Regions from separate parts of the Homo sapiens genome. Here region 2 is linked to region 1. The links come from fine-mapping of genetic effects on gene expression. A gene starts in region 1. The other region holds a variant in brackets. All regions are shown on one strand. Distances are between the middles of the regions. Region 1 holds the start of SLC4A1 (solute carrier family 4 member 1 (Diego blood group)). Region 2 has its middle 23 kb from the start of SLC4A1.

Region 1 (4,384 bases):
GAAAAGAAACATCTACATTCAGCCAGGGCAACAAGAATGATCTAGAACATGTGGTGTGAGTGGAAAGAACCAGCGTCCAAGCTGCTGTGCCTCTGCCTGGCTGTCTGGTGGGGCTGCCAGGGGGTGGTGCCTGCAGAACAGCCAAACAGCTGGCCAGATTTTCCCCCTAAGCCAGATGATGCCATTTGTTGTTCCACCCCCAGCCAGCTGTCAGTCCTTCCCGGGCCCCAGGAGAGGTGCCCCATTGCTGCCCCCTGCACTCAGCTGTCTCTGACTCCTAGGGCAGGCAGAGGGGCAAGGGGACTGGGCACACTGGCTGGGTCAAGGAGTCAAAGGTCTTCACTTGGCACTCACTGCCACAGGCCATAGGAAGCCAACCCAGTGTGGGCCCAGGGTTTGGGACAGATCCCACCAGCTGGAGCAGGAGAAGGCACCTCCAGCCCCCTTTAGCCAGGGCCTCTCTCTGTTCCTGACCGGCACCAAGGCCTGGGTGGTGGGAGGGGCTCAGATCTGGCAGAACACCAGCTGTCCAGGCAGATTAGCAGGTCGGAGTGCCCACGCTGGCTTCACCAGCCCAGAGGACTTGGGCAAGTCACTGCTCTCCTTTTGCTGCCCTTTCTCTGTGAGAGGTGAATAAACATCGTAAACAGTGTTGTCCTCAGATGGGCTTAGAGAGCTTGGCAAGCTAGAGCGTGTGAAGTCCAGGCATGGTGCACTGCACGGGGCAGGTGCTGGTCCGTTGGGCATTCTTTTTCCTGGGAAAGCCTCTCTGTGGCTTTGTTTCCTCCTCTGTGAAGTGGGGGGTTTGTAGGAATCCAGCGTGACCACAAGATGAAGGCCTCAGCATAATTCCTGGAACCGAGGTCCTCCATAAACAGGATTCTGCCTCAGGACCCGTGTCCCTCCCCTTTTCTCTCTCCACAGGACTCAGCCCCTGGCAGGCTTGTGGTGCAGATAGTGAATGGTCTTGCAGTGGCGGGATTTGTCCACCTGTGTGTCCCTGTGTTTGAGTTTCTTCTGCTTGAGTCTGAACTTCAGGCTGGTGGCCACATAACCCAACACTCTCACTTTACGGATGAGAAAACAGAAGCCCAGAGAGGGCCAGGGACTTGTCCAGGTTCCTTCAGCCAGTCCATGCCGGAGCTGTACTAGGACACCCTCCTCTCTGTGCCCAGAGCGATGGCCACAACACCCCTTTCTGTCTGCTTGAAAACCCCTCTTCATTCTTGCTGATCTGTACTCATCTTTCAGTCTCTGCCTCTTTAGCAACCAGAGCCTACGAAGAGGTGACCAGGCTCTGGTCACCCCCCAGAGCAGAGAAACTGGGGGTGTAGGGGTGGGAACTGAAGGGGAGGGGCATGGCAGGGGCTGAGAATGCGGCTGTTCTGGCCTGGGGGCCTGAGCCAGGCTGCCTACAGAGGAGCCAGTATGCCCAGACATTAGAGCTTTGTGAGTTGAAGAGCTTGGTGTGGGGATGGTTGTTTTGTTGAGCTGACATTGTTTCAGGTTGACTGAATGTCAGTGTCTTAGTGTCCAGGAGCCAGCTCTTTAGAACCAGCCAGGGTCTTGGGGAGAATGTGGCTGGGGCATCCTAGTCTGGATCAAGGAGGGGAGGGGGCTGTCCGTGCCCCGTGAGTGCTGAGCAGTTCCCTGTGGAGAAAACTGCAGAGGAGGAGTGAGTCCTAGCGTGGATACCAAGAGAGACGAGAGGAGCAGGCGCCCTTGCACCTTGGGGCCAGAGCAGAAGGGCCTGGCCAGAGTGGAGGATGGACAGAGGCAGGACAGGGACCTCTGGAGGCTGGTGCCTTCCTGCCAGGGCACTGGGAGCCCTGAGGACAGAGCGATCAAACCTTCATCCACAAAGGAAGAGTCAGGAGAACCATGGGGACCAGGAGGGCCCCGAGAGGCCTTGGGGGCTGGCCAGGCGGGTGGGGTGGGCCAGACTCACAGCTGTCCAGATGTGGGTAAGAGATAACTCTGTTTACTGGGCACCCAGTGGGAGCGGGGTGGGGGGTGTGGGAAGGGGCTCCCAGGGCCAGTGGGGCGGGCAGATTAGGAGGCGGGGGCATGAGTCAGGGGTTTGCGAGCTGCCCCTGGGGCGCTGGTGCTGTCAGAACGAGTGGGAACGTAGCTGGTCGCAGAGGGCACCAGCGGCTGCAGGACTTCACCAAGGGACCCTGAGGCTCGTGAGCAGGTGGGCAGGGCAGGGAGGGGCTGGGGATGGTCCTTCGGTGCCTGCCCTGAGGGCTTCTACAGGTGCCCAGCCTGAATCTATGCCCAGGTGGGCCAGGCTCCTGACCTCCAAGGGGGTGCAGGTGGGTGGGGTGAGAATGTTACCATGCATATGTTGCCCCTAAGGGAACAGGCCCATTGGCACCTGAAAAGAGGAGGGTGGCAGGTGGTCAATGGCAGCAGAGGTATGTGTGGCTCCGGTGCGTGTGTTGCGGGGGGTATCTGATCCCCTCCAGGTATGGGCCCTTGTCAGCTTGTTGGATCCCACAGGGTCAGGTCTTGTCCACCCCAGACTCCTTCCTTCCTAATGGGGTCCTCAGACCACCCCCTCTCCCACCTAGGAGGCAGGATGTCAGCTGACACAGTATCCCCTTTGGGACACTTCCAGGGGTCTACCTGGGGCACCTGGCTCCACGCCCAGCGTGGTCAGTATTGGAGGGAACTGCAGAGCCTCCTACCACATGAGAATCTCAAAACACTTAGCTCAGGCTAATTCCATGGGAACTGAGGGCAAATCAGAGGGGAAATGAAGATGGCAAGTCTGACTGTAACCCCAGCAGCAAGGGATAATGACAGCAAACATTTTCATAGCGCTCCTTATATGCTAGGCACTGTTCTAAGCCCCTTACAAATGTAAATTTCCTTAATGCTTACAACAGGTCTATGAGATGGGCATCATTATCATCACCCCCATTTTACAGATGAGAAAACTGAGGCACAGAGAGTTGAAGTCACACGCCGTTAGTAAATGGCAGGGCTGGGCTTTGAATCCAGGCAGTCCGACTGCAGAGTCCGTGATCTTAACAACTAACTCTAAACCAGCTAACAGTTGTTTTGTTGGAGGCAACTTAGCATAGTGCTTAGGGATGTGGCTGGAGTCAGGTAGTCCAGGCTGTAACCTGGCTCTGATACCTACCTGCTGGGTGGCTGAAGCAGGTAAATGTCTCTGAACCTCAGCTTTCGCATCTGTAGAATGGATTAATGACATTACTCTTCTTCCTCTTAGAATCCCCAAACCACTTCACAGAATGCTTTGGGGATTCTAAGAGTTAAGGCAGTACAGTTCTTTGTGCAGTTCGGGCTGATTACACAAAGGTGGTGCCATACCACTAGGAAGTTGTCCCTGTCATCTGGTCAATCCCCTCTCCCGCCGTGTCTTCCCAGCTGTGCTATACCTTCTAGGCTCAGATGTCCCGCTCACCCTTATCTGGCCTGGCCCTGGCCAGCTGGCTAGCTGGCCAGGTGTTTGGTGCACTTCCAAAACTTGGGGCAGCGATCTGGGTCCAGGCCCTTATCAGTGCTAGGCAGCACAAGGCCTGCAGCTGGGGGGCGGCCTGGCTGGCGGGTGGCAATCTGGGTCATGGGTGCGCCCTGTAAGTCTCCAACTGAGCTCAAGGCACCTCTGTTTTCCCCTCTTCTCTCTCACTGATGTCTCAGAACCCTGGCAGGAAGGCACTCCCATTGTACAGATGGGGTGACTGAGGCCTACAGGCTGGAAGCTGCCCAAGGCCCTTCAGCCAGTCAGTGGCAGAGAGGCAGCCTGGACCTCTGGATTCTGCAGCTCTGAGGGCCCCTCTGACCATTCCACTCCTCAGATAGGCAACCAAGGCCACAGTCCCAGCCCCATGGGTGGGACTTTTAGTACCTAAGGCTTAGACACCCTGGAGGCCTTAGCATCTGAGGCCTAAGAAAGTGCATGGGCAAGTCCAGAGAAGGAAGAAAGTGAATAAAGATGGAAGAGAAAGAGGAACTTTGGGAGAAGCAGAGAGGGAGGAGGAAAAAGAGAGAGAAGAGGTGGGTCATCAGGGTCCTCAGGAGCAAAGCCAAGCCCTGCAGTAGGGACTACCTCGTCCTCAGGTCCAGGACCCCTCCCCCGCACCCCATCACTTGCCCCACCTGCCAAGGCAGGGGTCTCTCCCATTCTCCAGTCTGGTGAGATCCAGTAATCCCCTCCCTACCCCCAGGACTGCAGGGTCACCCATTCCTCAGAAAGAAGGCTGTTTGCACATCCCTTTCTTTCTTTTTTTTTTTTTTTTGAGACGGAGTCTCGCTCTGTTGCCCAGGCTGGAGTGCAGTGGCGCAATCTCGGTTCACTGCAACCTCTGCCCCCTGGTTCAAGGGATTCTCCTGCCTCAGCTTCCTGAGTAGCTGG
Region 2 (4,384 bases), 23 kb after region 1:
TCCATGTACCCAGAAGTCAGGCTATGAGACAAGCCTGAAGAGAGCTCAGGCCACCGGCATCCCCAGGCCTCTTCCACAGGCTGGCTGTGCAACCTGGGAAAAGCCAGTCCCCTCTCTGGGTCTCCGTTTTCTACTGGGCTAATTCTTCCTGGTAGATCCTTTCCATCGCCTGGAAAAGGATCCTTTCCATCCTTTTCCAGCTCATCATATCTGGACTTAGGGGAATAAATGCTGCCTCAATTTGGGGGACCACTTCCTGCCCCTGCCAAGGGTTAAGCCCCTCTCCATGTTTTTAATTGCAATTCTGAAACACTACCTGGAGCTTGGGCAGCAGGGGAGGCTGGGACCCTGGCCAGAATCCCTAGGGCATTGCTACACAGTGGGGCTCTGGGACCAGCAGCAGTGCCATTTCTAGGGAGCTTGCCAGTAATCTAGGAGCTCAGGCCCTGCCCCAGAGTTGAGAAATAAGAATCTGCATTTTAACCAGATCCCCAGGTGATGTCCAGCACGGGAAGCTGGGCCTTAAGAACAGAGAGCCAGGGAGCAGAGCGAGGGTGTGCAGACTTCAGGTTTCTGCTCATCCATCCCACTCCTCCCACCCTTAGAGAAGATTCGGAGGCCTTCTTGAGGGAGTAGAGGGGGCCTGGGGTAGGGGCGGGGTATCAGGGCAAAGAGAGAGTGGCTGGACCACAGCCTGCCTAATTCCCCTTGTTGCACCTCAGACCCCAAACAGCTTGGGCCAGGAAGGCATTAGGGAAATGTGGGGGACACAGGAATCCCCCCAGACTGACTTCCTGCCTGGCCGGAGGCCTCACACTACCCCAACTTCCTGTACCTCACATGATCCCCCATCCCCCAACACACAGACACACAGACACACACACACACACACACACACACACACACACACAGTCTCTGGGTTTTTTGGGGAGTTTTCTTTTTTTTTTTTTTTTTTTTGAGACGGTGTTTCACTCTTGTGGCCCAGGCTGGAGTGCAGCGGCACGATCTCAGCTCACTGCAACCTCCACCTCCTGGGTTCAAGAGATTCTCCTGCCTCAGCCTCCCGAGTAGCTGGGATTACAGGCTCAAGCCACCACCGTGGTTAATTTTTGTACTTTTATTAGAGACGGGGTTTCACCATGTTGGCCAGGCTGGTCCGGAACTCCTGACCTCACGTGATCCATCCGCCTGGGCCTCCCACGGTGCTGGGATTACAGGCGTGAGGCACCGCACCTGGCCAGTCTCTGGGTTTTAACTCCTGCTTGTCCATTCAACTCTTTTGTGAAAACCATGTCAACGAGAATGAACTACTGTAATGAGGTCAACATTTGTGTGTGAACACAAAGGAACCCCACCCTGATAAGGAAGTAATTCAACAGACTCAAAAAGCTCTGGGCCTGAAGATAATTTAGAGGACTATCTATGTGAGCAGAAAGCTAGAAAGAGCCCAAATACTCAGAAATAGGACAGCAGTTAGTAAATTACAGTAAATTACCCTCCATCAATAGAATGGACCACTAGGCAGACCTTAATAATTATGAGGAAGCTATTGGATCAACTTAATGG[C/T]ATCACATGACCCTGGGCCTTTGAGGCCAAGGTGTTTGGAATACCAGCTTTGTGATTTGTTTTTTCATTTTGTTTTGTATAGATGAGGTCTCATTATGTTGCCTAGGCTGGTTTTGAATTCCTGGCCTCAAGCAATCATCCCACCTTGGCCTCCCAAAGTGCCAGCTTTGTGATTTATTAGTAGTAGGAGTTGGCTGAATAGCCTGATCTCTGAGGTTAAAGGCATCTGTAAAATAGAGATAATGATACTCACCTCACAATGTTGTTAAGAGGATAAAATGATATCATATATCCAGAAGTCCCGGCCCAGTGCTGCATTTTCGCAGGCAAAAATTCATAGTGATGTGTTCCTCATGGTGACAGCCACATAGAAACATACAGTAGGGTGCACAGGAGTGAGGGTTCGAGGCTTAGACAGAAAGTTAAAATGCCACCATGGTAGAGTTATAGGAGATATCATTTTATTTTTCTCCTTCTTGTGGACTTTAGGTGCAGAGGGTTAAATTAGTCATCCTCCTGAGGTCAGGGCAGGTTATCATCAACTGTTCTTGTTTCCGTTCCTTCTTTTCTCATTTCTTCTTTTCTTCATCCTTTTTTTTTTTTTTTTTTTGAGACGGAGTCTCGCTCTGCTGCCCAGGCTGGAGTGCAGTGGCACGGTCTCAGCTCACTGCAAGCTCCACTTCCCAGATTCATGCCATTCTCCTGCCTCAGCCTCCTGAGTAGCTGGGACTACAGGCACCCGCACCCACACCCGGCTAATTTTTTGTATTTTTAGTAGAGACGGGGTTTTACCGTGTTAGCCAGATGGTCTTGATCTCCTGACCTCGTGATCTGCCCACCTCGGCCTCCCAAAGTGCTGGGATTACAGGCATGAGCCACCGTGCCCAGCCCTCTTTCTTTTTTTTTTTTTTTTTTTTTTTTGAGACAGAGTCTTGCTCTATCACCCAGGCTGGAGTGCAGTGGCATGATCTTGGCTCACTGCAACCTCTGCCTCCTGGGTTTAAGTGATTCTCCTGCCTCAGCCTCCTGAGAAACTGGGATCACAGGCGCCTGCCACCATGCCGGGCTAATTTTTGCATTTTTTAGTACAGATGGGTTTTCACCATGTTGCCTAGGCTGGTCTCGAACTCCTGACTTACCTCAAGTGATCCTCCTGCCTCGTTCTCCCAAAGTGCCTGGATTACAGGAGTGAGCCACCACACCCGGCCTGCTCCTTCTCTTTTGTCTTCATTCCCTACTCCTATGTTCTTCCCCCTCCACAGCAACCATTCTAACTTGTTTAATTTGTTTCTTTTTATATGAATGGGTTCTTGAAAATATGTGTCACTGTTGTTGTTTTAAATTTTATTATGAAAATTTTTATACACAAAAGTAGAGAATGAATCCCAATATACTCATTTGTCAAATTCAGAAATTATCAGCTGGGCATGGTGGCTAATGTCTGTAATCCCAGCACTGTGGGAGGTTGAGGGGGGAGGATCGCTTGAGCCCAGGAGTTCAAGGCTAAGATCATGCCACTGCATGCCAGCCTGGACAACAGAGCCAAACTTATTCTCTTAAAAAATAATACTAAAATAGGTCGGGCGCGGTGGCTCACACTGTAATCCCAGCACTTTGGGAGGCTGAGGCGGGAGGATCACTTGAGGTCAGGAATTCAAGACCAGCCTGGCCAAACTGGCAAAACCCCGTCTCTACTAAAAAACACAAAAATTAGGCGGGGCACGGTGGCTCACGCCTGTAATCCCAGCACTTTGGGAGGCCGAGGCAGGCGGATCACAAGGTCAAGAGATCAAGACCATCTGGCCAGCATGGTGAAACCCCACCTCTACTAAAAATACAAAAATTAGCTGGGTGTGGTGGCACGTGCCTGTAGTCCCAGCTACTCGGGAGGCTGAGGCAGGAGAATCGCTTGAACCCGGGAGTCAGAGGTTGCAGTGAGCCGAGATCGTGCCATTGCACTCTGGCCTGGGCGACAGAGCAAGACTCTGTCTCAAAAAAAAAAAAAAAAAATTAGTTGGGTGTGGTTGCATGTGCCCGTAATCCCAGCTACTCGGGAGGCTGAGGCAGGAGAATCCCTTGAACCCAGGAGGCAAGTGAGCCAAGATGGCACCACTGCACTCCATCCTGGGCGACAGAGTGAGACTCTGTCAAAAATAATAATAATAATAATAATGATAAAATAAAAACAAAAATTATCAAAATTACGCCTTGAAATCTTGCTTAAATCTTTGCCGAAAATAATACATTTGCTTTATCTTCCTCTTTTTATCCTTTGCTGAAATACTTTAAATCCCATACTTGATGCCATTTCACCCCTATATTGTTTTTTTTTTTTTTTTTTTTTTTTTTTGGAGACAGTCTCGCTCTGTTGCCCAGGCTGGAGTACAGTGGCATGATCTTGGCTCACTGCAAGCTCTGCCTCCCAGGTTCACACCATTCTCCTGCCTCAGCCTCCCGAGTAGCTGGGACTACAGGCGCTCACCACCACGCCCAGCTAATTTTTTGTATTTTTAGTAGAGACAGGGTTTCACCGTGTTAGCCAGGATGGTCTCGATCTCCTGACCTTGTGATCCACCCACCTCGGCCTCCCGAAGGGCTGGATTACAGGCATTAGCCACCGCACCCGGCCTCACCCCTATATTCTTTAGCTATGCATGCCCCCATCATTGAACCTAACCACAATGCTATCACACCCAACAAAATTAGCAGTAATACCTTCATATCATCTCATATCTAATCCATAACCAACATATCTAAATTGTCTCAAAATGTACCTTTACACTTGGTTTGTCACGTGTGTGTATTTCTATACATAATC

Evidence for each region. PIP is the estimated chance that this variant, and not a neighbour inherited with it, causes the effect. A credible set is the group of variants that fine-mapping cannot tell apart.
Region 2: its variant is the best candidate, but not a certain one, in a credible set for the expression of SLC4A1 in whole blood (INTERVAL, PIP 0.84).

What each region holds. Positions count from the first base shown.
Region 1 is chr17:44,265,864-44,270,247 of GRCh38, reverse strand. It overlaps SLC4A1 (solute carrier family 4 member 1 (Diego blood group)), which reads left to right and starts at 2,113. Exons shown (of 20, transcript NM_000342.4): 1 at 2,113-2,194.
Region 2 is chr17:44,243,191-44,247,574 of GRCh38, reverse strand. No RefSeq gene overlaps it. Among named protein-coding and RNA genes, the nearest start is that of SLC4A1, 23 kb to the left of the region's middle. The variant C/T (reference allele first, on the strand shown) is at 1,567.